Homo sapiens: one gene and its partners. The protein of the gene in region 1 interacts with the protein of each later gene in a pairwise test. Each region holds a gene or a part of one and is shown on either strand. Other genes may lie near its edges.

What was found.
Region 2: the proteins of SKAP1 (region 1) and SH2D4A interact in binary tests that used the Homo sapiens proteins (3 or more experiments, as listed by UniProt).
Region 3: the proteins of SKAP1 (region 1) and PTPRC interact in a two-hybrid assay, tested with the Homo sapiens proteins (one study listed by BioGRID).

The regions. Positions count from the first base shown.
Region 1 is NC_000017.11:48,133,215-48,144,323, forward strand, and holds the end of SKAP1 (src kinase-associated phosphoprotein 1), read right to left. Parts: intron 4,124-11,109; coding exon 4,022-4,123; 3' UTR 4,015-4,021; intron 603-4,014; 3' UTR 228-602; downstream 1-227. UniProt on the Homo sapiens protein: Positively regulates T-cell receptor signaling by enhancing the MAP kinase pathway. Required for optimal conjugation between T-cells and antigen-presenting cells by promoting the clustering of integrin ITGAL on the surface of T-cells.
Region 2 is NC_000008.11:19,313,850-19,324,958, reverse strand, and holds part of SH2D4A (SH2 domain-containing protein 4A), read right to left. Parts: intron 10,965-11,109; exon of another isoform or gene 10,880-10,964; intron 5,616-10,879; 5' UTR 5,412-5,615; coding exon 5,231-5,411; intron 1-5,230. UniProt on the Homo sapiens protein: Inhibits estrogen-induced cell proliferation by competing with PLCG for binding to ESR1, blocking the effect of estrogen on PLCG and repressing estrogen-induced proliferation. May play a role in T-cell development and function.
Region 3 is NC_000001.11:198,751,997-198,760,042, reverse strand, and holds the end of PTPRC (receptor-type tyrosine-protein phosphatase C isoform 1 precursor), read right to left. Parts: intron 7,795-8,046; coding exon 7,672-7,794; intron 7,450-7,671; coding exon 7,271-7,449; intron 5,775-7,270; coding exon 5,639-5,774; intron 4,138-5,638; coding exon 3,862-4,137; 3' UTR 2,567-3,861; downstream 1-2,566. UniProt on the Homo sapiens protein: Protein tyrosine-protein phosphatase required for T-cell activation through the antigen receptor. Acts as a positive regulator of T-cell coactivation upon binding to DPP4.

The DNA of each region.
Region 1 (11,109 bases):
GGCAACAGAGCAAGACTCTGTCTCAGAAAAAAAAAAAAAGACAAAAAATAAACAATAGACGTGGATTCCAGAGAAGATTCTGCTCTGAAAGACAATTCCAAGTCTCCTTTTTTCTCTGGGCTTTTGTTTTCTCTCATGCTATCTCCACTTTATTGGGAGGTGGTAAAAATGCCCAGAGCTGACATATTGATATCATCTTACAAAAAGGAGCTCAACATCATCACACATGGCAAGGAACCACATCCCAAGTTTATTTGTGCTTTTCAAACCAGCCAGAACAACCAGTAATGTCCTCCTCCCAAGGTTTCCTTCTCTCTCACCTTCTTTGTGAAAAGCTTGTGGAAAAGGCAGATGTGGTTGTGTGGACACATTTAGAGATGGGGATGAGCTATGACTAGGCTGGTTTAGTAACAGGTTTGATGAACGTGCCTCTTCCCACTTGTCTTACTGGTAGCTTACAGTCACTCTGAGGTGTCAAGAGACTTGGGTCTCTTCAGCAAAGAGAGGAGTCCAAGGCGTTGGTGGGGTGGCAGAAGTAGGGAGTGGGAACTTTTGATGATCAGTTTCCTCATAAAGGCAGGAGAGAGGGAAGAATATATTTCCTAAAGGAGGAAAAATACATAAATTTGCTTTTGTGATTCAAAATATAGATGTATTAAAGGGCACAGAGTATAATGTTTTCCCCCTTACCCTGTCTCACAGTTTCTCTGTCCTTGGAGGCAACCATGTTATCATTTCATGTCTCCCTCCAGAAATATCCCATACAAATATAAACAAATAGGTATATATAGTCTCCAGTCCTTTTTTATACAAATGGGGCAAATTTGGCTCCCATTCTTTGCTGTTTTATTTTTTTTAAACTTACCAACATATTTCAGAATGTATTCCACACAGTTTCCCTTTCTTTTTTACTGTTGCATAATATTCACTTCTATGAATGTACTATAGTTATTTGACTAGTTCTCTGTTAAACATTTAGGTCATTTCCAAGTGTTTGCTATTACAATGAACCGTATGTGCCTGTCATTTTGCATATGTGCAAGTATAGCTGTAGGATAATTTCTATTTTTTTTTCTTTTTTTACCCAAACCAAAAATGGTCAATAGGATAAATTCTTTTTTTTAGATGGAGTCTTGCTCTGTTGCCCAGGCTGGAGTACAGTGGCTTGATCTCAGCTCACTGCAACCTCCGCCTCGTGGATTCAAGCAATTCTCCTGCCTCAGCCTCCTGAGTAGCCGGGTTACAGGCGCCCGCCACCACGCCTGGCTAATTTTTGTATTTTTAGTAGAGATGAGGTTCCACCATGTTGGTCAGGCTGGTCTCGAACTCCTGACCTCGTTATCTGCTCCCCTTGGCCTCCCAAAGTGCTGGGATTACAGGCGTGAGCCACTGCGCCTGGCCAGATAAATTCTTAGAAATAGATTTGTTGGGCCAAAGACAATGAAGAGATAAACAAATAAATGACAGAGTGAAAAGGGTGAATTTGTTTTTTATTTTTATTTATTTTTTTTGAGATGGAGTCTCTGTCACCCAGGCTAGAGTACAATGGCGCGATCTCGGCTCACTGCAACCTCCGCCTCCCAGGTTCAAGTGATTCTCCTGCCTCAGCTTCCCAAGTAGCTGGGATTACAGGTGCCCGCCACCATGCCTGGCTAATTTTTGTATTTTTAGTAGAGATGGGGTTTCACCATGTTGGTGAGGCCGGTCCCGAACTCCTGACCTCAAGTGATCCACCTGCCTTGGCCTTGAAAGTGCTGGGACTACAGGTGTAAGCCACCATGCCCGGCTGGCTGGATTTGTTTAGATTTGACAGAAAAATTCCAACCCTCTATACTTGTGGCCATGAAACAGTCTTCATCAGGAAAATCATAAAGTCAAACCTTGAGTGACAGGCCTGAGCTGGTGTTGTATGGTTGTACAAGGGCATTGGAGAATAAGATCTATCCTTATGTATTTTCCTAAATGAGTTCACTCAGCTGCTGCAGCACACTAGAGTGGGCTCTGGTCTGGACTCCAAGGAATGTTTGTATCACTGTCACACTGATGCCATTCTTTACCCCCAGCAGTGAAGACTGCTCCTATTTCAGGCCAGAAGATGGAGCTAGTGACAACATGCTGGTCTTGGGGGCCCTCCATCAGAATCTTAATTCTAACCAAAACCCACTCTGCACCAAAGTGGCTCCCACTATTACTCCACCCAAACCAGGCACCCACCCCCACTATTTTGAAACACAATGTGGTTCTTGCTAATACAACACAAACCTATTCTTTTTCTTTTTTTGAGACAGGATCTTGCTCTTTCACCCAGGCTGGCGTGCAGTGGTGCAGTCATGGCTCACTGTAATCTCAACCTCCTGGGCTCAAGCATTCCTCCCACCTTAGCCTCCCAAGTAGCTGGGCCTACAGACGTGCACCACCACACGTGGCTAATTTTTTAAAAAAAATTTTGTAGAGACCTTCTGCCCAGGCTGGTCTCAAACTCCTGATCTCAAGTGATCCTCCTGCCTTGGCCTCCTGAAGTGTTGGGATTACAGGTGTGAGCCACTGTGCCTGGCCCTGCAAACCATATTCTCTATTACTTAAAAGTTAATTTGATTATGTTCCATAGTTCCAATATTTCATATGTTCCAATATAAGGAATCCTCATATTGGATTCCTAATCTTGGTCAGTCATATTGCAATATGTGGGGATTTTGGGGAAATGGTGCCCTGGGTTTGAGAGCTGGGGATAAACCTAGATCCATCCCTGTGGCAAAAATTGCTAGTTTTATCCCAATATCCATTCTTCCCTTTGTATTTAATCATGAATCTCCCAATTCTAAGCTGGACACAGGGCTATAAGCTTTCTTTACAGCTTGCTGTGTCCATATATTCCAACTTCTGACCAATGGAATGTGAAAGGAAGTGTGTGCGCAACATCTGTGAAGTACCCTTAAAGGAAGAGGGTATGCTTTTCTCTCTCTTTTTTTTTTTTCTCAAGACAGTCTTGCTCTGTTGCCCAGGCTGGAGTGCAATGGCGTGATCTTGGCTCACTGCAACCTATGCCTCCCGGGTTCAAGCGATTCTCCTGCCTCAGCCTCCTGAGTAGCTAGGATTATAGGTGCACACCACCATGCCTGGCTAATTTTTTGTATTTTTAATAGAGATGGGATTTCACCATGTTGGCCAGGCTGGTCTTGAACTCCTGACCTCATGATCCGCCCGCCTCGGACTCCCAAAGTGCTGGGATTACAGGCGTGAGCCCCTGCGCCCGGCCTGACCTTCTCCTTTTATCTTTCCTGCTGTGCTGTGTAGGTTGCAGACAGGATGGCTGGAGATTGAGCATCTGTCTTGGCCTTGAGGTAACCTTGAGAATGTTGGGCACACAGAGAAGAACAAAAAGAAAAGGTACCTGGGACTGGATACCTTGGACCACTTACCTCTAGATTTTTGCAGAAGAGAAAAATACATTTCTGTGTTAATTTTTTTTTTTTTTTTTGAGACGGAGTCTCACTCTGTTGCCCAGGCTGGAGTCCAGTGGTGTGATCTCGGCTCACTGCAACCTCCGCTTCCCGGGTTCAAGCGATTCTCCCCAGTAGCTGGGATTACAGGCGCCCACCACCACACCTGACTAATTTTTTTTTTTTGTATATTTAGTAGAGATGAGGTTTCACTATGTTGGTAAAGCTGGTCTCGAACTCCTGACCTCAGGTGATCTGCCCACCTCGGCCTCCTAAAGTGCTGGGATTACAGGTGTGAGCCACTGTGCCTGGCTTTCTGTGTTAATTAAGTCATTTTTAGTTTAGATTTTATGTTGCTATTAGTTGAACCTTATCCTAAGTGACACTGTCCCCAAATTTAAGAAAAAAACAATTCCAGAGGCATTTTCTTTCCATCAGTGGTGAATCACTAGCATTAGTATGAGAAATGAAGAAAAGCTACTTCACTGGCAACTCTCATCTTTCAGAGAAACAAAGTAGTGGCCCACAAGTTCCACTCAACTATTAGGCAGTTCATTGGCCATGGTTCTGATACCTGGGTTTCATCTTTCTTCCACTTCAAAGGCAGTGGTGAGATACTCCTTTGGAACAATCCCAACGAGGCTGTTCAGTTCTCCCACCCACCAGCCATACATGTTATACTCCTGAAAAGTGAAAAGAGGATAGCGTCAGTTAGAATTTGTTCATGCTTCTGCTCATTTATTCTAGTGATTGCATGGGAGATTCTGTTTGGTGGTTTCATTGTTGCCATTATCACTGTGAACTGTTAACTTCCCTGATGGGATTATTAAATTTAAAAAAATCATCTAGAGGAAGAGAGCAAGCACTTTCCTTTTGCCATCTTCCTGTCTACATTGTAAAATTAGCACATTTGATGCCCTTGCTGAACCTGAAGAGCATTTTTTTTTAAACCAAGCCGAATGGTATGGCTTCTTAGAGAAAGTTGGGCACACATTAAATTGCCAGAACACTACAGATATTCAAGGGGTCAAGTCATAGTTCAAATCAATAATATTTATCAAGCATCTTCTATGTGCAAAGTGCTGTTTGAGTTCCCATGAGGTATGTAATGATGAATCAGAAGATTGCTTGCTCCTTGGGAGCTTACAGCAGAGTAATGGGCTTTGGAGTCAGACAGACTGAGATCTAATCCTCGCTTGGTCATTTAGTAGTCACATGACCTTAGGTTCTCCTAGCTTTAGCTTCTTTGTGAGAGTAGGGATAATATCTCCCTTCTATCTTGTGGGGATGTAAATTGTATCACTGAAGTAAAAACAACTGAAAGTGTTTGATACATAGTAGATGCTCTAAACATTAGATTCTTTCCCTAGAACAGGTGAGAGGTGACAGGTACATTAATAATGACAGGCTAGTCACAGAGAGGAACAAACAAGAAAGAGGATGAGAGGGTTTTAAAGAGAGTTTAAGGGGTAGTCACAGAGTGAGGATGCAGCTCCTTGAATACAGAAAAGCTTCTCAAAAGCACAGCAGATGTTGAAGAGTATGGGGCTATTTCTTTTTTTTTTTTTGAGACGGAGTCTCGCACTGTCGCCCAGGCTGGAGTGCAGTGGCAAGATCTCAGCTCACTGCAACCTCCGGCTCCCACGTTCAAGCAATTCTCCTGTCTCAACCTCCTGAGTAGCTGGGATTACAGGTGCGTGCCATCACACCCGGCTATTTTTTTTTTTTTTTTTTAGACAGAGTCTGGCTCTGTCTCCCAGGCTGGAGTGCAGTGGCGCAATCTCGGCTCACTGCAACCTCCACCTCCCAGGTTCAAGCGATTCTCCTGCCTCAGCCTCCCGATTAGCTGGGATTACAGGCGCGCACCACCACGCCCGGCTAATTTTTCTATTTTTAGTAGAGATGGGGTTTCACCATGTTGGCCTTGATGGTCTTGAACTTCTGACCCCAGATGATCCACCCGCCTCAGCCTCCCAAAGTGCTGGGATTACAAGCGTGAGCCACTGCGCCTGGCCACAACTGGCTAATTTTTTATATTGTTGGTAGAGATGGGGTTTCATCATGTTGGCCAGGCTGGTCTCAAACTCCTGACCTCAAGTGATCCACCAGCCTCGGCCTTGCTAAGTGCTGGGATTACAGGCGTGAGCCACTGTGCCCACTCTGAGTATGGGGCTATTTCTGATAGCACCAGAAAATGTTTTCTTTCTTTTGAAAGAAGTAAAATTAGAATGAAAAAAAAATTTTTTTTTTTTGAGACAGAGTCTCACTCTGTTGCCCAGGCTGGAATGCAGTGGCACAATCTTGGGTCACTGCAACCTCCACCACCTGGGTTCAAATGATTTTCCTGCCTCAGCCTCCTGAGTAGCTGGGACTACAGGCTTGCGCCCAGCTAATTTTTGTATTTTTAGTAAAGACGGTGTTTCACCCTGTTGGCCAGGGTGGTCTCGAATTCCCGACTTCGTGATCTGCTCACCTCGGCCTCTCAGAGTGCTGGGATTACAGGTGTGAGCCACTGTGCCTGGCCAAAATAAATTTTTTTTTTTTTGAGATGGAGTCTCGCTCTTTTGCCCGGTCTGGAGTGCAGTGGTGAGATCTCAGCTCACTGCAACTTCTGCCTCCTGGGTTCAAGCGATTCTTCTGCTTCAGCCTCCTGAGTAGCTGGGACTACAGGTGTGCACCACCACGCCCAGCTAATTTTTTGTATTTTTAGTAGAGACGGGGTTTCACCATGTTGGCCAGGCTGGTCTTGAGCTCCTGACCTCGTCATCCACCCGCCGCAGCCTCCCAAAGTACTGGGATTACAGGTATGAGCCACCGTGCCTGGCCCCGAATGAAATTTTAAGTATGGGAAATATCACATATTCCAGTTCAATTGGATTTGGGGTACCAAAGAGCTAACTGCTTCTTTGTACACTTGGTTGCTGAGTACTATTAGGAAAAACAAAACAAAAGAAGTAAAACCAGATTGGTGATATGTAAAATTCAGAGTCCCTAGCATTATCTGGTGATCTTTTTATCTCTGGATGCATATAATTATCATAGAATTATGATATCTAATATCTCCCCTCCTCAAACTCATGTTGCTTCTGACAACCTCTTCTCCACCTTCAAAGGGAAAAGAGAAGCCATCAGATTTGTCAGCCACCAGCCACCAAAGCAGGAACTTACCTGTATTGACAACCATCTTTCTTTCCCATTAAAGTCGGGGAAGCACCCCTCCCCTGGTTTAAGACTACCCCTCACAACACGCACTTGCAACCCTCCTCCTTCCTTTCCGAGAGATGAGGTTCTGTGGAGACTGACCATTGCCTGTAAAGTAAATGGCTCCTTCCACCAGCACTGAAAGGTGTTCAAGTTTCTCTCATTTTTTAAAACAACCATTAAATAGCTGCCACTGATGTCTACTTCCCATTTCTTCTAGTCTATGCCACACTTGTTGGGAAAGTTTACTCACTCACTGCTCCAACTTCCTTCCTGTTCACTGTTGAAGCCGCTCTCATCAGGCTTGGTTGCCGTCCTCTACTTAGGCTCTCTCTCCATGGTCTCCTGTAACCTCTGCATTGCTCAAATTCCCTGAGCACTTCTCAGTCCTTAACTTACTTGATCTCTCAGCAGTGCTGGCACTATTGGTCCTCCTTGAGGCCTTTTATTCTCTTAGTTTCTATGATAATTATACTCTCCTGGTTTCTCTCCTTCTACTTCTACTTCTTCTCATTCTCCTTTGCAGGCTCATCTTGCTCAATTCTGCTTTTTAATGTGGTTGTTTTCCAGGGTTCTGTCCTGGCCTTCTCTTCTGTCTTGATGCGCTTTACTAGAGCAATCCCATATATCTCTGTAGAGTATCCACCATGTCTGTGTTTATCACTCATGACCACAGCTCCACCCCAGGTCTGTACTGGACCCCAATAGCCAAGTGCATTCCACCAAGCTGTTCAAACTCAGTATGTCCTAAATTTAACATGTAATCCTGCCTTCACCTCCATCCTGACTCCAAAGCTATCTTTGCTTCCTTGGTTCTCTATCTCAGTGAGTTGTACTACAATGCACTGTTACCCAGGCTGGAATCTCAGGAGTCATTCCCAATTTCACTTTCACCTTCTTCTTCTTTCTTCTTCTTCTTCTTCTTTTTTTTTTTTTTTTAAGATGGAGTCTTGCTCTCTGTTACCCAGGCTGCAGTGCAGTGGTGTGATCTCATGATCTCGGCTGACCACGACCTATACCTCCCAGGTTCAAGCAATTCTCCTGCCTCAGCCTCCCGAGTAGCTAGGACTACAGGCACGTGCCACCATGGCCAGCTAATTTTTGTATTTTTAGTAGAGACGAGGTTTCACCATATTGGCCAGGCTAGTCTCGAACTCCTGACCTCAGGTGAGCCACCCGCCTCGGCCTCCCAAAGTACTGGGATTACAGGTGTGAGCCACTTCGCCCAGCCCCATCCCCCTCTTCTAATCAATCCTTGAGTCCTGTCGATTCTCCCTCTAAAATATTACTAAAATCCTCCATCTTCTTTCCGTTCCCAGTTGCCAATGCCTTAGGGTCATGTAGCTATCGTCTCACGTGAGAACTACAGAAACAGTCTCCAAGTTAATCTCTGTATCAGCATTCTTCTTCTCCACTCTATTCATTGTGCAGCCAGACTCGCTCCCTACAGTACACATTGATAATGTCACTGCTCTGCTTGGAAACTTTCGGTGGGTTCCCAATGCCCCTTGTTAACTGGTTTTTGTTTTTGTTTTTGTTTTTTTTGAGCCATAGCCCCTGTTGCCCAGTCTGGAGTGCACTGACACGATCTCAGCTCACTGCAACCTCTGCCTCCTGGGTTCAAATGATTCTCCTGGGTTCAATCTGAGTAGCTGGGATTACAGGTGCCTGCCACCACACCTCGCTGATTTTTGTATTTTTAGTAGAGATGGGGTTTCACCATATTGGCCAGTCTGGTCTTGAACTCCTGACCTCAGGTGATCTGCCTGCCTCGGTCTCCCAAAGTACTGGGAATACAGGCATGAGCCACTGTGCCTGGCCACCCCTTAACTTCTTAACAAAGTAGACAAGGCCCTGCATGACCCAGTCCCACTCACTGTTCAGCATTGTTACTCACCTCCTAGATTTAGTGTTCCTTAGTAAAATAGAACTTGTCTCAGCTGCTCCCATGGGCCACAGGCTCCCTCACCTTGGAACCTTTCCTCTGCCTGTTTAGCCTCTACTTCCCTTCTCATTTCATGGGGCTTACTCCTAAGCAGCCTTCAGATCTCAGTTCCTGAGTTACTCACTCCCTAGAAGCCTCTCCTTGACACTCTCTGACTGTGTGGGGTCCCGGTTACACGGTCCACAGTGCTGTGCCCTGTGCTTTCCTGGAAAAGAGCTTGTGATTACACTGCCTTCTATCTGCCTGTCTTTGTCTCAGTGTCAATCACTAGTTGGAAAGTTCTGAGGACTGGACCTTGTTGGTTTTGTTTGCTTTTGTGTTCTCAGCATTCAGCACTATATCCAGCACAGAGTGGGGCCAAATAAATACTTGTTAAATGAGGCCGGGCGCGGTGGCTCACACCTGTAATCCAGCACTTTGGGAGGCCGAGGTGGGTGGATCACCTGAGGTCAGGAGTTCGACACCAGCCTGACCAACATGGTGAAACCCTGTCTCTATTAAAAATACAAAAATTAGCTGGGCGTGGTTGAGGATGCCTGTAATCCCAGCTACTCGGGAAGCTGAGGCAGGAGAATTGCTTGAACCCGGGAGGCGGAGGTTGCGGTGAGCCAAGATCATGCCATTGCACTCCAGCCTGGGCAACAAGAGCGAAACTCCATCTCAAATAAAAACAAAACAAAACAAAACAAACAAAAAAACTTGTTAAATGAGATTATGATGAAATGAAGGGGGCAGTGGGAATTTGTATTCTTAGTTGAGCAGATTTAGTTACAACTAACTCCAAGATATTCCCCTGGTGATTGAACTAGTTGTGGCAGAAAGAGATCAACTACCTTTGGAGACAGTCTCCTCAAATGGCTCCTTATACAACAATAAGAGTCTGAAATGCCACAAGAAGTGAGACTACTGAGTTGATCCTTTTAGGACCAGGGAAGTGCCTTGTGAAAATCAGCCTTAAATAACTAAATGTGTCTGTCTGCCACCTCTTCCTACACCACACCTTCTTTTCTTGTTTTGTTTTTTGAGACAGGGTTTCGCTCTGTTGCCCAGGATGGAGTGCAGTGGTGCAAGTATAGCTCACTGCAACCACTCCTGGGCTTAAGTGATCCTCCCGCTTCAGCCTCCTAAGTAACTAGGACTACAGGTGCATTTCACCATGCCTGGCTAGTTAAAAAAAAAACTTTTTTTTTTTTTTTTGTAGAGATGGGGTCTCCCTATGTTGCCCAGGCTGGTCCTGAACTCCTGGGTTCAAGCAATCCTCCTGCTTGTTGGGATTATTGGAGTGAGCCACTGTGCCTGACCCACCACACCTCATTTCCTCCCTCTCCCAGGCCAGCTTCTCCCTACAGTTCGCAACGTCTTATGGGAAATTACCTATAATTCTTTAGCTTTTTTTTTTTTTTTTTTTTGGGAGACAGGATTTCACTCCCTTCACCTAGGCTGAAGTGCAGTGGCATGATCTCGGCTCACTGCAACCTCTGCCTCCTGGGCTCGAGATTCTCCTGCCTCAGCCTCCAGAGTAGCTGGGACCACAGGTGCATGCCACTGCCTAATTATTTTTTATTTGCTAATTATTTTGTATTTTTTTTTTGTAGAGATAAGAGTTTTGCAATGTTGCCTAGGCTAGCCTTGAACTCCTGAGCTCAAGTGATCCCCCAGCTTCAGGCTCCCAAAGTGCTGGGATTATACCCTGCCCAGCCTGTCAGGGCATTTTTAAGCTCCTCTTGGTACAAGATATGTTACTGTCCATTTTCCGACACTGAAATTAGGGCAGTTTCTGACTTAAGTTTTCTTGTAGTGTTGCCTTGCTGTGAAGGGGAAATACATACTCTGTCTACCTCTCACATTGTAACTCGTAAAAACTAGCTTTAGCTCTTCTGCTATCTCACAGGCAGAGAGTGGGCAGTGTTGTCTGAGAGTCTTTTGATCCAAGTCAACTTGCTGAAATGTGTGAAATGTGGTCTTCCACCTGCCAGATGCTGTCATCTGCATCACCTGCAGGGGACAGTAAGGCATTTGCTCCCCGGGGGTTGTTCAACGCTCCTAACTTTGACTAACACTTTGTAGCACCCCTCTTTAGTCGTAATGCCAGGAGTAGGGATGAAGCCTTGGGAAGGTGCTCTCTGCCAACTCGAAGAGGGTGCGAACAGGAAGCAGATGAGTCTCAGCAGGGTACCTGCAAAAGCCAGGCTCCCAGTCTGTCTGCTCTTGCTCCAGGGGAACACTGACCCTGCCGACTGCAGATGTAGAAGCCTCGCCACAGTGATGAGAACTGAAATGAGTGAAATCAACTCTCTGCCCTTCAAAACAAAAGAGCAGGCAGAAGTGTAAGGAGGATGGCACAGTCCCAGAGACCATATGCATCCTGCTGTGGGAGCCTGGGAGCTTAATCAAAGCACCTACAGGTCCCGGGATCTGACTGTCTTTTCCAGATTTCATCCCTTGGCTGTATACCCGAAAAGGGCTGCAGGGCTGAGATGTTTAAAGCATGAATGGAAAATTTCTAACCTTCTCTCCCACTAC
Region 2 (11,109 bases), on another chromosome or scaffold:
GTTTGAGTCACTGGCATGAAGGTGATGTTTCACGTTTAAAGGTTATAAGAGTTGCCCTAGGGAGATAATCAGAACTTTCACCTTACCCTAGGATCTGCGAACCCCTGAGAGTCTATGAATGAGCTTCAGGGAGTCTATGAACATTGTGAGATTATACACAGAATGGTGTCTCTGTGCATTTTCCTAGCTCTAAGCTTTCAGTAAATTTTCAAAGGAGTCTATGATCCCCCAGCCTCATCTCAAAACCACAAACCACCAGTGCAGTGTGAGGCACCCCCTGGGGAATACAGATATTCAAGATGAAGGCAGAGAAGAAAAAAGAAACAGGGAGAGAGCAAGACACTCGTGACTGGGCGGCAACTCCAAGAGAGAGACACCAAGAGGCATCTAGAGTCAGAGGCGGCTGAGGAATTGATCAAGATAAGGAAGGAATCCAGCAGGTGATGCCCCTGTGCTGATAGCCCTACTGCATGCAGTGAGTTCAAAAGGGAAAGACAGGGAGGCAAACACTGTCAATGGCATGAACCAATGGCCTTAACATTATTTCACAAAAATAGAGGGAAAGCTTTTCATAAAGGATCTGCCCCCTTGGGAACAATGAGAACGCAGCAAAAAAAGCTGTATGAATCCAAGTCTGTTTCAAGGGCACACAGAGGAGCCCCTTCCGCACCTTGCACAGCAACCAGATCTCAGCCCATTGCATTAGGTTTCCATCAACTTGACATAGACCCCATGAAACAAGTGCTGGGAAACACGCTGCTAAGCGAAGGCGTCTTCTGTTTGCGTTACCCAATAAAATCACCCAAGAAGAAGGCTCTGTGGCAGATTCCTGACGCGAGCACATGTTTTAGATGTGCGCAAGGCGCCTTCACATAAAAGTCACTGTCATTAAGGTCCAGTGAAGGTAGCTTCAGACAAAAGTCACTGTCATTAAGCTCCAGTTAAGCTCTACGTGTAGTTTATTTGTTTACAGTGCTGGCTTTGGGAGAATGAGACCCAGGATCTATTCCAGCTGTGTCACTTACTGTTTGCCCTGGCCAAGTTAATGAACGTCCCTGAGCTTGACTTTCCTCATCTGTGAAAAGTGAATAGCAACACACACTTCAGGCTTAGCTGTGATTATTTAGTGAGACAATATACTTAATCTCAATGCTCAGGGTCTGATACCCAGTTAAGCGTATTGAATGCTGGCTGGTGCTACCATTATAGCATGCAGAAATGTGTACCACATCCATAACTATCACTTTTCTAGTAGCCACATTAAAAAAATCAAAAGGAGGCCGGGTGCCCTGGCTCACACCTGTAATCCCAGCCCTTCGGAAGGCCGAGGCAGGTGGATCACCTAAGGTCAGGAATTTGAGACCAGCCTAGCCAACATGGTGAAACCCCATCTCTACTAATAATACAAAAATTAGCTGGGTGTGCTGGCGCACACCTGTAACTCCAACTACTTGGGAGGCTGAGAAAGGAGAATCGCTAGAATTTAGGAGGCAGAGGTTGCAGTGAGCTGAGATCATGCCTCTGTACTCCAACCTGGGAGACAGAGCAAGAGACTCTGTCTCAAAAAAAAAAAAAAATCAAAAGGAACAGGTGAAATTAAGTATTTTACTTTACCCAAGATATACAAAATATCATCAGTTCCATATATAAGGAATATACAATTATTAATGTGGCATTATCTTTTCCTTCTACCAAGTCTTTGAAATCCGGTAGTTTACATGTATAGCACACCTCAATCCAGACTAGCCTCATTTCCTGTGCTCAAGAGCCACATGTGGCTTGTGGTGACTGCACTGGACGGTGCGGCTGTAGACCTCTAGCTACCCCAGCAAGCAGAGTAGATCCATACGTCTCTCCCTAAGTATCACATTCTCCCACTACAGAAATCAGAAATGATCTTCTCATATAGTACTAAGTTAAATTCACATGCTGATAGTTTTTCAGCCCCTTCTACTTCAGCCTTCAGATTACTAACAAGTAGACAAGTCGGGCACGGTGGGTCATGCGTGTAATCCCAGCACTTTGGGAGGCGGAGGTGGGTGGATCACTTGAGGTCAGGAGTTCAAGACCAGGCTGGCCAACATGGTGAAACCCTGTCTCTACTGAAAATACAAAAATTAGCTGGGCATGGTAGCAGGTGCTTATAATCCCAGCTAGTCACTCAGGAGGCTGAGGCAGGAGAATCGCTTGAACCTGGGAGGCAGAGGTTGCAGTGAGTTGAAATGTCACACCACTGCACTGCAGCTAGGGAGACAGAGGTTGCAGTGAGTTGAAATCTCACACCACTGCACTGCAGCTTGGGAGACAGAGCAAGACTCTGTCTTTAAAAAAAAAAAAAAAAAAAAAGAATAATAGACAAGTTTCTGTGATGCACAATACACAACAATTTTAGTGATGATCCCCAAACACTAAGCACAGGGGTCTGTGTATTCGTAGTGAAAAATGACCAGATGACAATGAAGGAACTTCTAAGTGATAAGCTAGAGGGGGTCAAGGAATGGCAGGGGTGGCCTATGATGTTTTTAATGAAATGAACAACCTTCAAAACCACCGTGTGGCTAAGAACTGCTAAGAAAAAGCAGCACTTAGCTCAGTACTAACCAGAAAGGCGGGAGAAGGGGAGGCAGGGAGCACAAGCCTTCAGGGATCAGATGCACGAGTGACCTGTCAACCCACAAGGGTCATGGGCTTAGCAGGTCTGCAGCACAGATAAGCACCTCTGGCAGCACCAGCCATGACAGCATTGCTTTGGACGGTCTATGGCTTTATCTTCAAAGACAGCGCAAGATGAAAGAGAAGTGATGGGATTTTAGGGGAAGTGGGAGTAACTTTTTCCCTTTCTGTAGTCAGAAGAGGAACTAATTTAATGCAAAATATATTTTTCCAAGTTTTCAATTTAAGGGAGTAATACACTTTTGACGTGAGATATTGATAGAACTTTCCCCACTTATATTAACATACTTTTCTCATGATCATTTGACTAACAAAGTTAACACAGGGTTTCTGAGAGGTAGATTCAAAACCCTACAAGCGAGAAATGTAAGCAAAGAAACTGAAATTATTATTTTAAGTCATCACAAGGAGACCAATTCAGCAAACACGAGAAACCCAAAGTCTAACAGAGTCTGGGCCATTGACTCTAGTGGCAAGAACCCTTTGGCTGCTAGTCCCCAAGGTCACCCCATCACACTAATATATGTTATGTTCACAGTGAACATGGTGCCCAGAAGAGACCCAATTATATCTGAAAAACTCTGACTGGGGAATCCAAGAAGGTGCATAAACCAGTTTAGAAAGAAAAAGAGTTATGTTTCAGTTTGGCCATGTTATTTGTTGGAGGAAAAGTTGTATTTTGGATAGTGCAGAATAATGTAAAATCCAACAGAACTGGGCATCTATTGGTGGTATAACCTTGCATATATTACTCAACTTATCTAAGTTTCATGGCCAGCTTCAGTGGCTCAGGCCTGTAATCCCAGCACTTTGGGAGGCCCAGGTGGGCAGATCGTTTGAGGTCTGGGGTTCAAGACCAGCCTGGCCAACATGGAGAAACCCCACCTCTACTAAAAATTCAAAAATTAGCTGGGTGTGGTGGCACATGCCTGTAATCCCAGCTACTTGGGAGGCTGAGGCAGGAGAATTGCTTGAACCCGGGAGACGAAGGTTGCATTGAGCCAAGATTGTACCACTGCACTCCAACCAGGGCGACAGAGTGAGACTCCATCTCAAACAAACAAACAAGCAAAAAAAAAAATGAACTTCTCTAAGTCTCATCATCTGTAAAACAGGACTGTCACTGCTGACTTTGCAGAAGTTTTGTGAAGGTTAGGCATTATATGCATAAATGTGCTTCACATAGTGTCTGAAACAGGAGGTGTTTCATAAATAGTTGTATTGATCATAACAAGAGGAAATGACATATTTCTGTTTATTTCCTTGTCATGATAAAGGCATCACTGGAAAAAAGTTTTAATAAAAGACAGTAAAAAGTAAAGGACGCTACACTGACCTCCTTTGTGAACCTGGGCATATACCAGGGATGCAAGAGAGATTCATTTTCTCAATCTTTGAAACCATATGTGATTTTACAAAATTTTATTTTCCTGGTTTAATGAAACATGAAAAGAGACGGTCTTAGATGCCTCTGCAAGTGACCTTGAAAAGTGTGCTGTGTTTTCACAACTTTGGTATTCACCCATGACAGACTTCGCATGTAAACAGCAAGGCGGGGGTGTGGGGGTTAGTGAGAACGGAGTGAGGAGGGTGGACAATGTGTATTTTTCTGTGTCTGTATGTGTATATGCTTTAAGTCTTTTTTTTTTTTTTTTTTTTTTTGACACACAGTCTCACTCTGTCACCCAGGGTGGAGTGCAGAGGTGTGATTTCAGTTCAGTGTGGCCTCGATCTCCTGAGCTCAAGCAATTACACCACCTCAGCCTCCCAAGTAGTTGGGACTATAGGCATGTACCACCATGCCCAGCTAATTTTTTATTTTTCCTAAAGAAAAGGTCTCACTATATTTCCAGGCTGGTCAGAACTCCTGGACTCAAGTGATCCTCCTACCTCGGCCACCCAAAGTGCTGCAATGACAGGCATGAGCCACTGCACCTTGTCTGCTTTAAGTCTTAATGTACAAAGATTTCCTCCCCCATGGTCTCAAAAGAACCCTCTCAAACTACCAGAGATTCCTTTGATAACGAGGAAAAGTTTACATCTGAGAAACTCATTCACACTAAAAAAAGATAGTATTATGATTTTTTTCCTTATAGCAATTCCTTACATTTTAACAGGAGGTGTTCCCTAAAAAGATACCTCAAAGAAAAATCTCTGAGGTCTAAGAAATGCAAACACAATTGCTATAAATATACTGACACAAGAACTTTGTGTTCTAGTAGTAGCATATTAGGAACCAGTAACAATAAAGGAGATAGAAACCTTTCTTAATACCCCTCAAATCAAACCTCATAGGTGACTTTTTAATACAGCTTCAGGTTAGTCTGGTTTCAAGTAAAAGATTTCCTCATAGCTATGCAACTCCATGGTGAATGCTGTGTGTGTGTGTGTAGACTTCAGGTGGACATACTGCACTATTAGATTCTCAATAACATTTAGGATTCATCTGCCAAACTGGAACTTGCACCTGCTTTGCTTGTGACTAGTGTGAAATTGTCAAAGCAAGCCAGGAGCTGTTCTACCAACACATCCACAGAAGAAACGTGGATAAGTTTACCTTTCTTTGGTCTGGGTTTCACTGGCAGGGACTCCTTTCTTTCCATAGCTGCTTCTCTTTCTTTCCATCGTCGGATCTGTTCCTCTCTCATCTTGAAGAACAGGATCTGTTTCTGTTCTTCGCTGAGCTCTGCCAGTAGATCAGGATCTATGTACATCTCCGACAGTATCTGTTTCAGCATCTTTGCACTTCTGAAGTCTTTTATACTTGTGGCAAAAGTTCCTGAAACTGGCCTCCAGGTGTCCCTCCACCTGTGCTGGCACTTGGGCGTTTCCACGAAACTTCCCAAACAGCTCACAATCCTGGCTGACTGGGACAATAATTCAGCAAACTGGCTACTCAGACCTGGCACCAAATGTCCTGTCCAAAATGCTGTTCACTGAACCTGCAGAGAGAAAGAGCCCACATTCAGGCAGCGTGTTAAAATGTGTGGACACTGGCTAGGACGGGTTTAAAAAAAAAAGCTAGGAGGAAACACAGTATCACTTTTCAGTTCAGAGAGAAAAGAGAAGAAGAAAATCTGAGGCACACTTTGTTAAGAGTTTGTATAACCTCTATCCTGTAATTTCTAAAGATACTCTGTCAAAAAAAAAAAGAAAACAAACCCTAACTTTATACAGGTCAATCTCAGGCAAACAAAAAAAGTTCACAGAGGTTTGTCCAGCTCCCAACTAAGCAAACACATTATTACCCCAGAGCCTAACAAACCACCAACTGTGTGGCTGAAAAAAGAAAGAAAAAAAAAAGTCACAGGAAGAAATTAAAAGGCTCTCTGCAAAGTACCTATTTCAAAAGAAAATACCACTTTTGATATGTCACAGAGTAACTCATCCCAAACCAAACCAAAATAGAGCCATGCTCAAGGAAGAAAAAGGAAGAAATAAAAACTAGACCACCATGCATTTTCTGCAATTTCCCTAAAAAGTAGCATTAAATAAACAAAATTATGTACTTTCCTCTTCACAAAAGGATAATGTAATTTCCAGATAACCTACTAGAGCCATGAAAATCAGGGCAGGTGCAAGAGAGAACATCCATCTACATTCTGGAAGGTCACCGAGTTTTAGGTGTGCTTTTTCCAGATAACCTAGTTTAATAAAATCTAAATGGACAGACCAGATAAACTAGGGGGATGAAGAGGTCATTAGGTTCATAACAAAGGATCCTTCATTTATATGACTTTACCGCATGGCTCCTTGAAAGAGAAACCATAAAGCGAGAGTGCACAGTGGCCTCCTAGAAGTTCTCCTGTGGTTGGAAATCCTACTGAGGTTTCATTCTACTTTCCACATTTCTATTTTAAAATATTGGCTTAAAAATATTACCACACTGTCATACTTTCTCTCTCTATTTTTAAACAATTTCTAAGTCCCATAAACCATCATACTTTTGTAATCAGCAGGAAACTATGTAAATATATCTATTCTGGAAAACAAAAGACTTTGGATTCGATGTAATAAGATATAAGAAAAAAAACTTACTACAACTTTTCAGAATCACATGTGTCCTAAGAAATTGACCAATAGGCCAGGCGGGGTGGCTCACGCCTGTAATCCCAGCACTTTGGGAGGCCAAAGAGGGGGGATCACGAGGTCAGGAGTTCGAGACCAGTCTGACCAGTATGACCAACATCTCTACTAAAAAAACAAAAAATACAGAAATTAGCTGGGCATGGTGGTGGGTGCCTGTAATCCCAGCTACTCAAGAGGCTGAGACAGGAGATCGCTTGAACCTAGGACGCAGAGGTTGCAGTGAGCCGAGATCGCGCCACTACACTCCAGCCTGGGCAACAGAGGGAGACTCTGTCTCAAAAATAAAAAAAGAAAAAAAAAAGAAATTGACCAATAATTTGTTATTTATAATAACACCTCAATAATCTTACCACCTTGCCATGTGCTCTCAAATACGTTGTTTCTCCATACTATGTTCAAACAGTCTTAAACTTCAGACAAGTCACTTAGCTATATTATGACCATCGTAGTGTTGTTGGTTTCTCTTCGTTCACCTTGTCATTGATACAGTTAGATTTGTAATGCCCCTCTCACCATCTGGGGGCCTCCTTCAGCTTCCCGTCTTCCTCCTCTTCCGTGCAAAGTAGTTCCTTGATTTACACCTGTCTTTTGAGACAAGCACGCTCAACAGCTAGGCTACCACAGAGTGGTGTGCATACTCAGCTCTTAGATTCGCTGACTGTTCATTGTGAAGCCAGGCCCTTGATGAAACTACACCTATCCCTACTGACTGCAACCTATCATCTCGGCAGCATTCAACTACCAGAATCCAAATGGAACCAAACATTAAGAGAAAAATTTTAAAGGACTAAAAGTAATATCACGCCCTTCCCAGATCCACTTGCCAACTTTGTATTTTGCATTGAGATACCCTTAAAGGCTTGAACAGCCAAAAAAAAAAAAAAAAAAAAAAATGGATGTCTTGTCAAGATTTCTTGACTTTTGACTTTTTGTTTCTAGCAGCTTCTCAAAGGGTGGAGCCAATGAAATCCACAAGCTCCAAGATAAAGTGGTAAGAAAGGAGACAGAATGACTCCTTGACATTCCAGTAAATGTCCTTAAGTTCAATGGTTGGTTTTCGCAGAAATCACACACGGCAGAAGATGAACAGTTCAGCTGGGGTTGAGACTTCTGCTGTGTTCCCCATTTTGAATGCAGCGAATCCTATTCAAGGCATGGGTAGATCCTAGAATCTAAAACCCTTAAAGTGTCAAAGTCATATTCCTCCAGTCTCCCCCGCCCTGCATATTCCTGATAACACAGCTAACACTTCTTGTACCAGGCACCATCTTAATTAAGCACTCTACATGTGTTAACTCACTTAATCTTCACAATAACCCTTGGAGTCCAGCCCATCACTATGCCCATCTCACAGATTAGGAAGATAGAGCACAGGTCAGCAGCTGGTAAGCGGCAGAGCCGGGCAGTCCAGCTCTAACTCAGCTTCACTGTAATACACAACACAGAGGCCTTTTTGTGAGTTTATTTGTGTGCCCAGAATCAGAACAGCAGGATGTGGTGCCATGTATGAAATTTCAGAATGGAAGCCAGCAAATTCCTGCAGCAACAGAAACGCTGAACTGATGGTGCTTGACACAGGGCAGAAGCCTCCTCCTGGTCAACTGTAGCTAAGCTTAGGGGAGGCCAGGTGCACACACCCCAGCCAGGAAGGACAGCAAGGAACCGACTGTCACACTGACCCAGGTGTGGACATTGCTTACCCACGTATTCACCAGACACTTAGTCCCATTTCCCCTTGCACTTAGTCATCCACTTCGTCTCTACAATTTCCCCTTCCAAACAAACACTAAGAACAGCACAAAAAGCACAGCCTCTCACATGTGCAAGGAGGTTCATGGCACCTCTGTGATGAAATTCTCACATTATTTCCATTTTTATGTTGTTTTGTTTTACTTTTTATAGCAAACGTGGATTTCTAACATTAAAATTAACTAGTTCATCTTGAAGGAAAGACACTGGCTTCCTTGTGCCTCCAAGAATACTTGGGGGACCCAGCCGACAACTATCTGTGGTCAGGCCGTTGACGATGTGGCCATTCTGCCACTGCTGAATGGTACTGGTGTAAATCACCTGTCCCCCTCACCCTCTAATTCCCAACCCCTAACCCCCGCTCCAAGGCTTTCTCAGACCCCAACTCAAGCTCAGCACAGTACACCCAAGACACCCAGAGGCACTCCAGCCTCAACTCCCAGCTCCGCCTCTAGTGAGCGGTGTGACTCTGTGCTGTCACCTCACCTCCTTGGGACTCAGTTTCCTCATCTGTGAAACGAGGACTGGTTCAGTCTGTGACTTCTAATGTGTGGGTATCTGACATAATCTACTGTGAAGCGAAGGAGCCTGGTGGAGCCAGGGTAGAAGAAATAGAAATCAGGAAATTAACTAACTAGGGCTTTCCTACTTTCACTCCCTGACAAGGAAGTAATCATTGCTGATACTGATTCAAACTCAGAGGACTTTCCCATACTATATCAAGGGCAGCAAATCTCCGGTTATTCAAGATCCAACAAAGGAATAGCTCAGCTAACACAGCCCCTTTCTTAAAAGAGAGAAATGATAAGCAACAAGCCCACACCTGCTATTTATTCTGAACACCAATTGCTAAAAGGTCAGAGAATCCGTTGTTTTCCATGATACCATAGATTTGGCCTGATTCTCACACCTTCACACTGTTCTACAATACAACTGTCTTTTGAATAACTCTGAGACCTAAACAAAATACAATTTTAAAAGGCCTTAGATACAGGCTAAATCATAAAAATAGTAGGCGGGCACAGTGGTTCTACATGTAATCCCAACACTTTGGGAGGTGGACATGGGTGGATTGCTGGAGCTCAGGAGTTCAAGACCTGCTTGGGCAACATGGCAAAACTCCGTCTCTACATAAAGTATAAAAATTAGCCAGGCGTGGTGGCCCGCACCTATAGTCCCACCTACTTGGGAGGTTGAGGTGGGGGGATCTCTTGAGTTGGAGAGTTTGAGGCTACAGTGAGCCGAGATCGCACCACTGCACCACAGCCTGGGTGACAGAAGGAGACCCTGTCTCAAAAATTAAAAACATTAGGTCGGTGCAAAAGTTATTGTGTTTTACATGGCCAAAAAAAAAGTAACTGCGGTTTTTTTTACGTAAAAACCGCAATTACTTTTGCACCGACCTAATAAAATAAAAAATAAATAAAAGTATTGTGGTATGGACAGTGTAACTATAACATTAACAATACAGTTTGAATTCTAATTCTTTTAAAACAGCCAGCTCTGTGGTCCAACTTTGTTTTCTTATTGAAACTTTATCTTATTCATCTACCAGCAAAAGGGCTGTTTTTGAGGATGAAACAAATTACCAGAGATGACAGCAGTTTGTAAATATATACTATTCTTCAGAAATTTGAGATTACTGTACACACAGATTTAGTATACATAGAGAATTCCACTCATATGCCAAATCTATGCCCCTGTATGCTTTCCACTTATTTATTCACTATTTTAAAATAATCGTACCCAAGTCGTTGTTTCTATTAAACCAGCAATCAAACGAAAGCCTTTGGAGCGATGAGGAGCATCTGTTTGAAAGGGGGAGGTGCCACGCTTGCTGCTTCTCTAAGCTCCCTGGGAAGGGAGAGACAACTCAGAAAACCTACAAACTGTAGCTCCTTCCGGTGCCCGCGTGACCCCCGAGTCCAGGAGCGGGCAGGGGCGCCGCTTGGCTGAGCGCACTGGGCACCCGGTCTGGGTCTGGGCCAGCCCCGCCGCTGCAGCCCGAGGGAGGCGGCGCTGCACTGGCCTCCGCGCGCTCCCAGACCCCACGTGGGGGCGCCCCTGGGTGCCGGTGCGCGGGGAACGTGCTGCGGGGGTGCTGCGCCAGCTGCCACCGTTTCCCGGGACTTCCCTCCTGGAAGATTTCCATGCGCAAGTCGAGGACGTGCTCCTGCTAGGAGTCTAGAAACTCTAGGCCAGCCCGGACCCTCCCGGGGCCTGCACTCCCCGCGGGTGGAAGCACGCGCCGCGTGTCCCTGCCGGATTCCAGAACTTCCCCGAAGGTCCTCAGCCCCGGCAGACCCTCTCCCTCGAAGTTCCCCCGCCACCCCCTGCAAGCCCCCAGGCCCCGGGGACCGCCGCTCACCTAGCCAGCGGCTCCAGACACCGGACACCGGACACCGGACACCGGACACCCGCCGCGGCCGCTCTCGCCGCCCAACCCCGCACCTGAGCCCGCCCCGGGCGCCGCGAAGGGGTGGAGGCGGGGGTGAGGCTTCCGCCCGCCCGCTCTGGCCCCTGCGCCTCCCATGCACCCATGCAACCTCCGAGGAAATTCCCTTCCCCCTACTCCCACCCCACGCACACTCTCCCCAA
Region 3 (8,046 bases), on another chromosome or scaffold:
GACAAGGATGCCCTCTCTCGCCACTACTGTCCAACATAGTATTGGAAGTTCTGGCCAGGGCAATCAGGCAAGAGAAAGAAAGCAAGGGCATGCAAATAGGAAGAGAGGAAGTCAAACTATTCCTGCTTGTAGCCGTCATGATCCTGTATCTAGAAAATCCTATAGTCTCAGCCCAAAAGCTTCTCAGGATAATGAATAACTTTAGCAAAGTCTCAGGATACAAAATCAATGTGCAAAAATCACTAGCATTGCTATAACCAACAATAGCCAAGCTGAGAGGCAAACTCCCATTCACAATTGCCACAAAAATAATAAAATGCTTAGGAATACAGCTAACTAGAGAGGTGAAGTCTCTCTCTGCAAGGAGAACTACAAATGTTCTTTTAAGTGAAGTAGATATAGTTGATTCTTTCATGTTAAAGCTGCGAGATTAAAAAAAATAGGATGCCAAGTTAAATTTAAATTTCTAATAAACAAGAAACAATTTTTGGTGCAAATATGTCCCAAATACTGCATGAGACATACTTGCACTAAAAAACTATTCTTGTTTCATTTAAAATTCGAATGTAACCCAATGCCTTGTATTTTATCTGACAATCAAATTTCATGTCATTTTGAAGAAAGTAATCATGGATAGTTTGAATAAAGAAGAAGAGTTTTCTTTACGGGATCTTAGCAAAAAACAAGAATTCATTTGTTGTAAGTTATCAAAAGCTTTTAATTGTCCTACAAATATAATTAAAATTTAGGAATCACTTTTGATTTGGGCAAAGAATAAAATGTAAAGAGAAATGTAAAGAGGTTTACAAAAGAATGAATACAAATAAAATGGACCCTTAGAAGAATAAATATTTTCACTTAAAACAGGACATAAAAAAGCCTAATTTTGAATGTCTTTGAAGAACCTTCAGATCATTCCAGATGTAAAATTTGTGTAGGAGATTGAAAGCATAGCCTTTTCTACTCATTTTAACAGATATTCATTTCCTTTGAAGTGATATATTTTAAGGTCTTCATATCAAGAAACATGCTGCAATTAGCTAGGAGCAAATAGCATTCACTTATTCAGATCTAATATGGTGTTATGAAATCATCTTATAACCAATATCTGGTATAAATCTAAAATTAAGATCAGTCCTAGTTAGTTGTAAAAATAAATTTTATGTTTAATATTTTAGAGGGAAAAAAACAGGAAAATTTCTCTGTACAAATATAAGAATTCTGAGGGGAAGCTTAACGCATTTAAAATTATCTTTGCAAAGACAGATGTTCAGCTAATCACTTTACACAGTTTTCCTCTTGCAAGAAAATATTAAAATATATATATCTCTTAAATGAAAATATTTATTTGTCACTTATGTACACAATTAATAGCTTGGGACCTGAAGTTTAGGCTTACTAAATGTATCTTTTATTCCCATTGAATTCTAATACCAGGAATAAAGCAAACAACTTTAAAAGAAACCTAGAAGTTTCTTTTTGCCCAATAAATGTAATGTTCTGGATTCATAACATTATCCCTACAGTGTACCAGGCTTTTGTAAGTCAAAACTTTTTGCTTAATATTTCTGACTGGATCCTAGAATTAATAATGGCAGTGCCAAACTTTAGCAAATAAATCTTTTATACCTTGTAACAGATCCCCATTAATGCAACCCATGGCCATAGACATAGACCTATAATTCACATATTATTTCTTTCTACAGGTAAAAATCATAGACATATAATTCCATGTTCTAGTGCCATGGGTCTCACCTTCGGTTTAGTATATGTTCTCACAAAGTAGTGGGCTTTCTGAGCCACTATTTCATCTCTTTCTTTACAACAAATTCCCATATGTAGAAAAAAAGTCTCAAGCTTGATTCTTAAACTAATAGAAATTATTATTGCTCTATTTTCTAAGTAGTTTTTAATCTTTCAAAAGATAGTGTCAGGTGGAAAACACATTTAAAACACACAACTACATTTGGAAGATGTTACTTGCAATTGAAACTTCTGAAGAAAAACTTTGCTTGTAGATTATTTAGACTTTCTGCTATTTGTATTTTGAAGCAATTAACAGATAAAGTAGGCATACATCATAATGTTCTATTGAACATGAGAACTGCAAATTTTAACTACATTATCTAGAAAATGGCAACTGATCAAGTTTCAATAAAAGAAAAGAATGCATAATAGTTTGAGTGACTGAAGAGGTAAGTGAAAGCAAACTTTATTTTTTGTGCCCATAATTGGTGATTCTAATCCCCTTTTCTCATTAATAAGTAAAGATGTAATAAGTAACCTTAATATAAATTAGAAACTGTGGCTTCATTGTAAAATTTACTTCTTTTCATCTGTTAAATAAGCACAAGGATCTATATACTACTATAAGGGTTAATTGTTAATTTTATATGTTACAATAGTGAAATAATTAGAAGTAGGGACACAAAATAAATGTGAGTTGAATGGACAATAATCGGTGCTGTATAGTTAAGACATATAAAATCAGACAAAAGAGTAAAGATATAGAAAACCAAACCAATCTAAAGGTTGTGTTTGACCTTCATGATAAGCTATTACAGAATTCACCAAAACGAGTTTTTATTACTTCATGAAAAATACCACTATTCTTGATTTTTTTTTTCTAGATCTTAAACAATTATTAGACTATTGGATAATTGGGGCCTGTAAAAGTGTCCTGCAAATGTTAATAAATGCATTAAACATATTTCAATAGGTGCATACACATTTCATATTTGAACATATAACACAATGTATTATAAACAAGAAAAAAATAATGGTTGAATTTTATTATGATTAGCGACATCCATTCCTGGTAAAAACATTCTAAGCATTGGAGAAATTCAAAGTAAATGCTTTAATGAAAGTTATGAATGGGATTTAACATGGGAACTATGCATATGCAATATCATATTTTTCATATCAATGAAAAATTCCATAAAAATAGCTATATTAAATTTCATATGTAAATATTTAACAAATATGTTTGTATTCTTCTATTTTTATACAATGAATATTAATACATATTGCATTTATTTATTTTAATGACATTTATTTAAGTTCAATTGTACAAAACCTAATTTGTTGTCAAAAGTATCAAGCAATAAATTTTAAATATTGTACAGGGAATAATCGAGCATGCAAAATTGAAAACCCCATGTAAAGACAGCATGATAAGCTCACTGGAAATTTTTTAATTAAATAAGCTTAAAAAGACATTGGACTAAATGCTAATATATGGAATATAAGATTTCCCAATGTTAATTTAGTTAACAACTTTTTTGTAGTAGCATACACACACATACCACCTTTATGTACTATCTCTAGAAGTAAAATAGTAAACTATATAAGATAGATATATATGAGTAGAACAAGGAGGACATCTTGAGGTCATTTCAGAAATGTACATGATTTTATTGAGTCTGCACACAGTTTATGATTTTTAAAAACAGATCCTTCAAGCTAAGTTAACACTTCTAATATAAAATGTATTTTTTCTTCATAAAAACAAAGGAAAAGCAAAAGCTTTTAGATTCACTTGAAAGAATTCTCTCTCTTTCTCTGTCTCTCACACAAACACACACCCATACACACATACATATACACACATAACGATTACAAAGAAGTTGTTTTTTACTGAATAAGAGATAAAATTTTAAAATAAGCATACGTCTGTACAAACTGTTCTGGCAAAACTATCTTAAATATTTTTCCACAGTAGTAAAATATAACCCTTCTACAAATATTGGTTCGCTGCATTTAATTAATCCACTGTATACCTATTTTCACTTCCTACTTCTACAAAAATAGAAATAACAGCTAACAGGAGGTTTGGAGTTTCCTCATTTATGTCTTTTCCTATGAACCTTGATTTAAAGCTGGACTTGCAGGACCATTGACAGAATGTTCTGGCCCCTCAGTGCCACTCGTGGGTTCAGAACCTTCAGCCTGTTCCTTTGCTTCAGGGAGCTTTTCTGGGGCACCAAGTGGATTAACACAATTAGCATCCTGCTTTACTTTGTCCACTTCATTATCAAATTCAATTTTATCTTCTTGATGGTTGTTTTTCTTTACTTGTCCATTCTGAGCAGGGTAGGTGCTGGCAATGACGTCATATAGGAATTGATATTGCTCCTAGTAAAGGAATTAAGTGGGAAATTACATGAAGAAAGTTGATGTCATTATTTTTATGCCAGATGAAGATTAGCAAGAACTAATGATTTATTTGTGGAAGTATTGGATGACAGAAAAGTACTTTTTGATATGTTCTCATAAAAACATCTAAATAATTTAGTTTCTTTATGGTGCTAAAGGGTTGACTGCAGGATACTTTTTGAACTTTACCTTGGAGCAACCCCAAACCAGTGTTCACTCCGCTCATGGGCCATTTCCATGCCTTTGCTCATGATGCCACGTTTTGTACTTATCCTCCTGTCTAATGCCTACACATTATTTAAGAATCAGGGCAGGAATCACTGCTTCGAGAAGCGTTTCTTGATTCCTAAAGTTTAAATTAAATGCCCTCATTCATGTTCTTCTTATAATTTTTCTGTCATTTTACTCACTACATTGATTAGTAAATACCTGGCTTTCCCTCATACCAATTAGCTCTTTATAGCAAGAGCACATAGCAAGCATTTGATACATTTTTAAGTACCAAGATATGAAATCTCAATATCATACATGATTAAAAGCTTTATATATTTTAGTGAGTAATTAAGTTTACACTGTGAATAAGGATTAATTCCCAGATGACCATCTACAGTTACTACCACATAGAGGGTATACACGATAGATCGATTACAAGAATATAAAACTTATTTTCCTTCCTGTATCCACATTTCTTTGCAATGTGAATTTGCAGGCCCTCTCAAGAAGTGGAGTCTATTTCCCTACCCCTTGAATCTGGGCAGGCTTTATGACTTATTTATTTGGCTAATAACATACAGAAGAAGACATGTGTGTCACTTTTAAGCCTGGGCCTCAAGTGGTCTCACACAAGTCTTCTTTCCCTTGTGGAACTTGCTGCTTTAATGTGAATAGGCCTGGGCTAGTCTTCTGGATGAGGAGGGACATGTGGCCCACTCACTGTTGTTGCCATAGCTAAATGGCAGCCACATGCCAGCCTACTGGCAGTGTAGGTCACTTTAGACCAGCCAAACTGTAGGGCACACATCAGCTGAAGGCAGACACATGAGTCAGCCTGGTCTCTATTGCCTGAGCCTGAGGGCACCAGCAGAACATTCCAGCATATCATTAGACTACTGAACCATAATAAATGTTATTTGTTTAGGCTCCCAAATTTGGGGGTGGTTTGTTACACAACACAAATCGATACAGGAGTGAAGGAAAGAAAATTAAGAAATTCATGAGCATTTAGGGAAAGGCTCTTCATGAACTGTCACAACAAAGTGCTAGTAAACTTTAGGCTCTTATTTAGACTTATAATAATTTAATGTGAATTATCATGTAAAAGTAGAAAAGCTAAAAGAATAGGAAAGAAAATAGAGAAGAGAAAAGGAAAGGGGAAAAAAGAACAAACGAGAGGAAAGGAGAGGAGAAAAGAAAAAAGGAAACCGTCAAAAAGAAAAAAAAAATTCCGAGCATGTTAAAAGCAATGGTGAAGGATACTTACGAATGTGGAAACCATGCCTGGCCTAGCTTTGCGTAGAGCTTTTACCACTTGAAAAATATCCACTACCTCTTCTGTTTCCGCACTTTCTAAGAGATTTAACAAAGCACAAAATATTCCCGTTTGCTGAGATCCATCCCTATAAAAGAAAGAAAAGATAGAAAATAATCCTACTTCTCACCAAAAAGGGTGATATTAGAATAAAAACAGGAAGAGAGAGAATATATTTTTTGCTTCATGTTTATCATAATTATCTTATTCCAACCTCTTTCAAGAACCAAATTATTTACGCTAAATGCATTTTTAGGCAAATTTTTCAATTTAAGAGTGTGATAATCCTGGAATTGAAAACTTATTTGTCTTCGACTTTACAAATATATTTTCTTTTATTTAGTATTTTATGGATTTTAATGCATTTTTATTTACATCTGAAGTTGTTGAAACCAATATCAGAATGCCAGTATGATAGATAAGGAAACCAAGATTTGGAGAAGAGAAAGCTGATGTAATCAGAAATATTAGACCTAATATTTTGTAAATTACTAGAACACATGCTCTTCTTCACTCTTCTGCCTCTCTACCACGTTTCACAAATGTTTTCACTTCTGCATCAGTAGAAAAGTAATACCTAGTAGAATTATTCACTAAAAAGAGGGCAATCAAATAGTTTACCAAACAATGAGAAGTATAAAGCATTATCATAAAGATTCAATTTAAACAATATGTTATCAGCAGGACACTTTAGTTATTGTACATAAATCATATTCTAAGAAACATATATAGTTTTACAGTGTAAACTTCCCTTCCTCAGCTTTCTTTCCACATAAATGCTGAAAATTCATATATTTCTTAAGGCTTGATTCTAGTATATGCAATTCCAATAATAACAATTAGACTTTTTCAAAAATTCCAAAAGTTTTTCACTAGATAAACATTTCTCATTTTACTTTACTATTTTTCGTTTCTCATTTACTTCAATATTCTTTTTCATGTAAACTTTTATATTATATATCTTTCTTTCAATTATATTGCTTATTTAAGGTGAATATGTAAGCACCTATCACAGATGAAGAAACTAATAAAATCTAGTAGTATTATTGATATTACCACAATCTTTGCCTTTGGTTCAGTTTAGAAAATTAAATAATGAGTTTCAAATCAAAATTGCTAAGCTTTGTGATTTCAGTTAATATTTAACTTAAAATATGTTTAATAAACTTTGTGTTCATTAAACATATTAGGTGTCTTTGTGACACCTAATAGAGTAGATCAATGTATATGGGTATATGTGTAAGGTGATACCCATCTACCTATCTGTTCACACACCCTTCCATTCATTAATTCATTCACACAAATGACATTCCTGGCTCAATGTTAGCTACCAAGGAATCAAAGATGACATGACACCAAGTATTAAAAAACACAACTTAAAATTATTGCACTATAATATAATCACTTCTATTATATTTCTACAATAGTTGTGTTGTGGAAACAACCAAGAGAGTGACCGACTCCATAAGAAGTTTTTACTGTGGTTATGTGTTTCATATATGAGGATAACTAGATAAGACAACATGTGAACCGAGAAGTCAAGCATTATGATTTTGAGAGCACATTCTACCAAATCCCACGCACCTGCAGTGAATGAGTAGAGGTGTACTCTTGTGATGCTTGTTCCCTTCAGAGGAATTCTTCTGGGGAAGTTTTTGTTTGACGACCTGAATCATAGAGATTAATTCCTTGGGTTCTGCAGGAAGCTGCTCCACACTCCAGTTTGTATATTGGTACTGGTACACAGTTCGAGAGTCTTTCCTCTAAAATCAGAATTGAAGAGAGCATTAACTGGAGTGAAGTTCAGCTTATTTTCTAATTTGATAGTCATATTTTCTTCACAGTTACTTCTATTTAAATAATTTTAAAATGTTATTCTGAAACATTATTTATATGATGGCCTTGCCTGCATAGAGTAATTTATATTCATTTTGCTACCAGATCCATTATATCAAAGAAATATACTCCCCAAATTGTTTCCATACCTTGGAATGTCTCAGTTCAAAGACACGAAGGGTATAAGTTGAAGATTTGTCTGTGTCTTTCAGGTCAACTTCAATATCTCCATATGTTTGCTTTCCTTCTCCCCAGTACTGAGCACAGATTTCCTAGATAAAAGAAGACAATTCAACAATTTGTTTCCTATTTGAAATATGCAAAGGATCAGTCTCCCTCTTTCTCCCTTTCTTTCTCTGTCTGTGCCTCTTTTCTATTAAATGAAAATTATTGTGTTCTAAAATTGAAACCTACTTATAAAAATCCAGAATCTATTTAAGTGCTGGCGACCCATTTAATAAATATGTGGTGTTTCCTTGTGTAAGAAAAGGGAAGCTGAGCACAATCGAGGTGACTGGGACACC